Linked DNA regions of Homo sapiens: region 2 is linked to region 1. The links come from fine-mapping of genetic effects on gene expression. Tissue or cell type: cerebellum. Region 1 holds a variant in brackets; the other region holds the start of a gene. All regions are shown on one strand. Distances are between the middles of the regions. Region 1 has its middle 380 kb from the start of EPHA3. Region 2 holds the start of EPHA3 (EPH receptor A3).

What was found. PIP is the estimated chance that this variant, and not a neighbour inherited with it, causes the effect.
Region 2: EPHA3 starts here. The variant in region 1 is the best candidate, but not a certain one, in a credible set for the expression of EPHA3 in cerebellum (GTEx, PIP 0.60).

What each region holds. Positions count from the first base shown.
Region 1 is chr3:89,483,596-89,486,633 of GRCh38, reverse strand. No RefSeq gene overlaps it. Among named protein-coding and RNA genes, the nearest start is that of EPHA3, 380 kb to the right of the region's middle. The variant A/G (reference allele first, on the strand shown) is at 1,407.
Region 2 is chr3:89,106,459-89,108,958 of GRCh38, reverse strand. It overlaps EPHA3 (EPH receptor A3), which reads right to left and starts at 1,338. Exons shown (of 17, transcript NM_005233.6): 1 at 1,123-1,338. The coding sequence starts at 1,210. RefSeq lists an enhancer at 1,357-1,496.

The sequences.
Region 1 (3,038 bases):
ACTCCACCACTTATTTTCCCAAATGGCATCTAGAGCCTGTGTGTCAACAGAATGTGCATCCCAGAAGCCTCATAAGAAGGGTAGCTTTTAGTAGGCATGTTGACATTATTTGTACATAGTGAGAAAGTAGAAAGGATCAGAAAAGCTTTGGCATTTACCTTGTTAAATTTTTATAGCTAAGCTCTGGTTCAAGGGTCTACTTAAACAACTTAACTGCACTAAGAAAAGTGGGAGCATTGAGACCAATGAAACAAGTCCACAAAATTCTATGAAAATGAACCAGTTCTAGCAGAGATCAGTATATTCAATGATCCAAGATATATAACTAGAACATTAACTAGCTTTATTGAGCTGAAGGAAATTTACACTTTTTCCTACGGGGAAAAAATAATCAGATACATTGCCATTTATAATGCCATCAAACATTGTTTTAATATATTAATTCAACTCAAAAAAATTTTGTGTTTATTATATACCAGGAAAATTGCAATAGGTGATGCAACAACAATGGTTTGCAAAACACAGTTCAAGGTGTCCTCAGCTAGAAGTAAAGATAGGGCATAAAGAATAGGCAATTTTGGTTAAGATAGTGTGTGTCAGTATTAAGTACAGGGTTCTACTGCTGCACGAGGAAGGGTTACCTAACCCAGTTTTTAGGGATATAAGAGGACCTGAAGAATGATTAGAGATTGGCTAAGTGATTCTAGACAAAAGATCAAAAAAGTCAAAAGCTATGATGCATTAAGAAAGTGGAATACTCAGAGAACTACAAGTGGGTCAGTACAGTTGTATAGAGTGTAAGGAGGTAGTGGGTTAACCAGAAAATAAGGAGAGAAGCCGGGTTTTATTCAAGATAGGTCTCATGTGCCAATACCAATGAGTAGTCTGTATTTTAGAAATAAAAAGTTGGCAGCTGCAGGGTAAATTCAGAGTGTGTGTGTGTGTGTGTGTGTGTGTGTGTGTGTGTTCATAAATAAGTGGGTTATAATTTAAATATATAGAAATTTTTCCACAAAGACTCAGATTAAGGATTCTCTTGAAAAATCAAGAATTAATATATACACTTACCATGTACCTACAAAAACTTAAAAAATTAAAACCTAGTTTCCTTAAACCTTAAAAACAAAGAAAAGGAAAAACCAGGAATTCATACTGGATCGGTGTTGCCTTACACCTGAGAAATTTGCTTTTCGTGGAAGAAAAGGCACTTTTATGGGTCACCACACTCTTCACTTGCTTCACTCATTTATATAACCTGCCAGTTCCCTGAGGCATTTGCGTTTGCAAGCCTCCTGAGGAGGAACTACAACATTAACTTTGCCGTATTAGTCTGGCTGCATATTCAACCTACTTTTGTAGGTTGAAGATATCAAGACTAGAATCAGGGGCACAATTTAAGAAATTCC[A/G]TCTGTAACTCAGAAAAGTAATGAGGATCCAACAGAGATTCTGCTGGGCAGTAGAGAAAAGGGATGAGAGTGAGCGTTTCTAAGGTGGCATTGTTAGGGGATCAGTTAGACACTGAAGAAAAGGCAGAGAGAAGAATGAAGGATAACATTTTAGTTTTCCAAGTGAGTCAACTTGAGAGTCATCTAAGTTTAAGATTTTCAAGAATCAGACACAGAAAGAATTAAACCCGCAAATATTTTTTGCTAGAAATGCCTGGGTAACATCATTGGAACAGGGTTTAAGAGAAAACACAAGGAGCTTGCAGATAGAAATACAGTTCTGACACCTATAAAAGGAAAGAGTGAAGGAAGGAAAATTGAGTAGTAGGGAGATCAGACTGTAGGGTATGCCTGAGCAAGCTTCAGTCAGGATGATTAGAACACAAAATACGCTTGTTAAAGGGATTTACCACTTGTGAAGAAATGGCCTGGCACTAGTACTTCCACCATACTCAGTCATTGACAGGCATTAACCAAGGTAGAGCATGGCCTGCTAAAAATATGCTGGGGATTTTGAAAATATAGCAGCTCACAGTTGTCAGCTAACTGCTCTCTTGCAAGAAACTCTCTTGAAAGGAAATCTGAGCAGTGTACTCACATAGCTGACAAGTGCCATTAGTAGAGGTATTGGATTTATGTAATAAGAGAAAAGAATGAAAAATGGTTGCCTATAGAGGAAAAGAAATTGGCACAGTTAGCAAGAAACTGATGTTTCTCTGATAAGCTTTTTAGAACAATCTGCCTCTGACATATTATTTATGTTAAAAGGAGTTGTGGCAGAGATTGTGATATAAATTCCAGAAATTTTCCATTTTTATTTAGGCACACTGTCAGACAACTCTCTTTATGTTCTCTTGCAGTTAAGTATGCCAGTGTGGTTGAGTTGTTGCCAGTGGAACCAGAGAAGAAGTGGTATGTACCACTTACAAGCAGAGTTCATAAAATCCCCCCAAATGATCCTCTCCTTCATTTTCCTGGCTGGAAGTAGAGGATTTCAAGGCTCGACAAGATGGAGAAAGTGTAGATTCTTAATTATTGCAAAGAAGGCCACCTGGCAAACACCTACTTTGGATCATTCTGTGTTAAAAAACATATTTTTATTATTTTAAGTTGATAATATTTGAGAACTTAACTATGTAGCTAGCATTAACCTAAGAGGTCTTCCAAGAAAAATATATGTCTATATAGGAAACACATAAATATTTGTAATGTAGATCTTTACATACTTTCAAAGACATCTTTCCATATACATTTTTACCCTTGAATTCTTTTTCTTAAAGCTTCAGATTCTCATCCCCAATACTTAGTAACTTATTAAAGTCTGGCTTACACTATATATTTGACAAACCCATGATGTTAAGCTGACTTCTCCTTATTCTCTACTTGGACTAATGGTGCCATCATTTCCACAGACACTCAAGACCTAAATTTTTGTTTTGCTTTGATTTCTATCTTTCGAAGAATTCTCAGAACAAATCGGTAAATTTTGTTAATCCTCTTTCTTTTATATATTTTTGTATGCTTTCCATTCTTCACATCTCTATTACCACCATCCTGGGGTAGATGTATATCTTTGTGCATAGAATACCAAAA
Region 2 (2,500 bases), 380 kb after region 1:
GGAGTGATGTATATAACATGATGTTTGCACATCAGTTGCTCGGTATTGTTAACTTGCAAAATAAATTGCTAAATGTTACTGTTATAAGTTCAAAATCACTAAGAGGAAATTAATGTTGTAAGTGTGGCTTTACACTAATCAATTATTTAGAGAAGTTTGTTTTACGAGTTAGTGACTGTATTCACAAGAATAGATCACAAAAGGAATACAGGAGAAAGAAAATGTATGTATTAAGTACACAATCTTATAGAACACATTGGTGTCCTTAACATTAGGTTTGCACTTTAACCCACTGAAAAGGAATTAATGCTCATTACAAGGATAATAAATAACACAACATCAAGGAAATGCCATTTGCTGCATATGAACATTCTCTCTTAATCTACTATTCAGTTATTTACTATATCTTCCCAGGAGCTATCCACTATTCATTAAATACATTCTCCTATTTGTATATAAGCCTTTAAACAAAGAGAATCCAACCTAAGCTTATTGTAATTCTTGCAAATATTACTTACGTTAATGTGGCATATGCTGCTCTTTAGAACCTGTACCATAGAGCAAACCATTGCCTGGCGGGATACACACAACTTCAACACAGCCCTTGCACCATAAACACGCACCTCCGCTTCGACAAACTCTGATTTCCCTTTAGTCCATTCATAAATGCCATGATCCCAAGTAGGAACAACCTGTCATTACCTTTAAACATACTAAAGAGTCTAGAGAGGAAGGCTGAATTTTCTTTCAAACTTCTCGGAGTACCACATGGTCATAATTAGAAAATAAAATACTGCCTTGGCTATTTGGCAATTAACATAACTGGGTTGCAACGCTGGAGGATTTTCTTTCTTTCTTTCTGCTCAAATTGGCAAACAAGGTAATTGCTCGAAATGGTGTCAGATTAAAAACACATTTTCAAAGTTTAGACCATCTAAAATTATCTCCTGAAGTGTTTTAGAAGACAGTTGGAAAAAAAAAAGGCACATCTTTCCTTCACTCTCAGAGCAAACTGCTCTATTCGGAGGCACCTTCCCGACGTGCAAGGCTTCGGTGAGAACGTGCTTTGAAGAGCGTGAGCCCCGCGGGGCAGAGCTCCGTGCGTCGCGGTACCTGGCTTACCTTCATTGGAAGGCTGCGGAATCAGTTCCCCGAAGCTGTCGAGAACAGAGCAGCTGAGAAGGAGGAGGATGGAGAGCTGACAATCCATGTTGCTGGTGCAGAGGGCAGTGAGAGGAGCATATCTCCATGAAGCATGCCACTGATGTGAGGGGGAGCGCTCTGATTGCTGGAGAAGTTACCATGCTCCGCTCGCAGGCTGATGTCAAGTTTGACACTGGAGATAAGGAGGAGTCTGGCTGCCTTTCCGCGAACCCCGCTCGGGGACTTCCCTGGGTCCTAGTGCCGTCTTCAGCGTGCGCTGAAGCAGAGCGGGATGGCACGCAGCTGGCTCTGCAGCCCAGAGCTGCTCGGGAAGGAGACCGGGTGGGAGTGGGGGCGTCGCCCATGGGACAGGAAACACAGAAGATGTGATGAGGCCGCGGTGCTGAGAAAAATGCTCCCTCTTTTGTGTTGCATGAAAAGTAGCTGTTTTATTGTTTGCTATCCATGCTCTGTTGCTTAATTCACCGAAGAAATCACAGCCTTGATAGGAGTATCATATGGCAATGTGAGTGCAAAAGGAACTGAAATGCGAGAGAAACGTGTGTTTTGAAAGAATAGCAGTCTTTCGTTAAAAAGTCAATCATGTTTGTATAATTGAAAAAAATGATTATAGTTATTCCTTTACTGTGTTCAATGTGATCATAACTCTCCATGAGTTCTTTGTGATTCAGAAAGACACTAATACACAGCCTGAATCAGAGGGTCTCTGCATTTCCACACCCAATGGTATCGTGGCTTTTTACTAGATCTGGCACAGTGATTTTCCGCGCACATAGAGCATACTTTGTTTTTTTTCAAACAGGGAAGTTGACCTTCATCATCTTACGGAAGGGAGCAAGTCTAACCCCAGCCGGAGGTCTACATTCTTTTCTCGTTCTGTGTTGTAAAAGTAATACAGATCAAACCTAAATTTCTTAATAATACATATCCCCCTCCCTCACCATCTCACATTAGGATCTCTGGGTTCTGCAAGAGAAACAATGCATAATTCACAGCTCCTCCATTCAACTTTCAACCACTGATAGTCTAATAATATTGGGGTATTCTTATTCTTTAACATTCCAAATCCAAAAGCTAAATAATAATGTCCTCGTACTTTCTCACTTATTTTACACCATGACTATCAATGGTCTCTGTTATTTCCAATCCCATTGCTGAACAACCTATTGCAATCTAGTTCAGCCAAACAATTTTGTAATTTATATTTTAATAACCAGCATCACTTATCTTTAAAATATCTCCCAGAAAATGGTTACTCAGATATCCTTCCGCCCATCTATCTCTTCTTATACTAAAAAGAAAACAAGATTATTATATTCCTCTCACAACTTCAGAA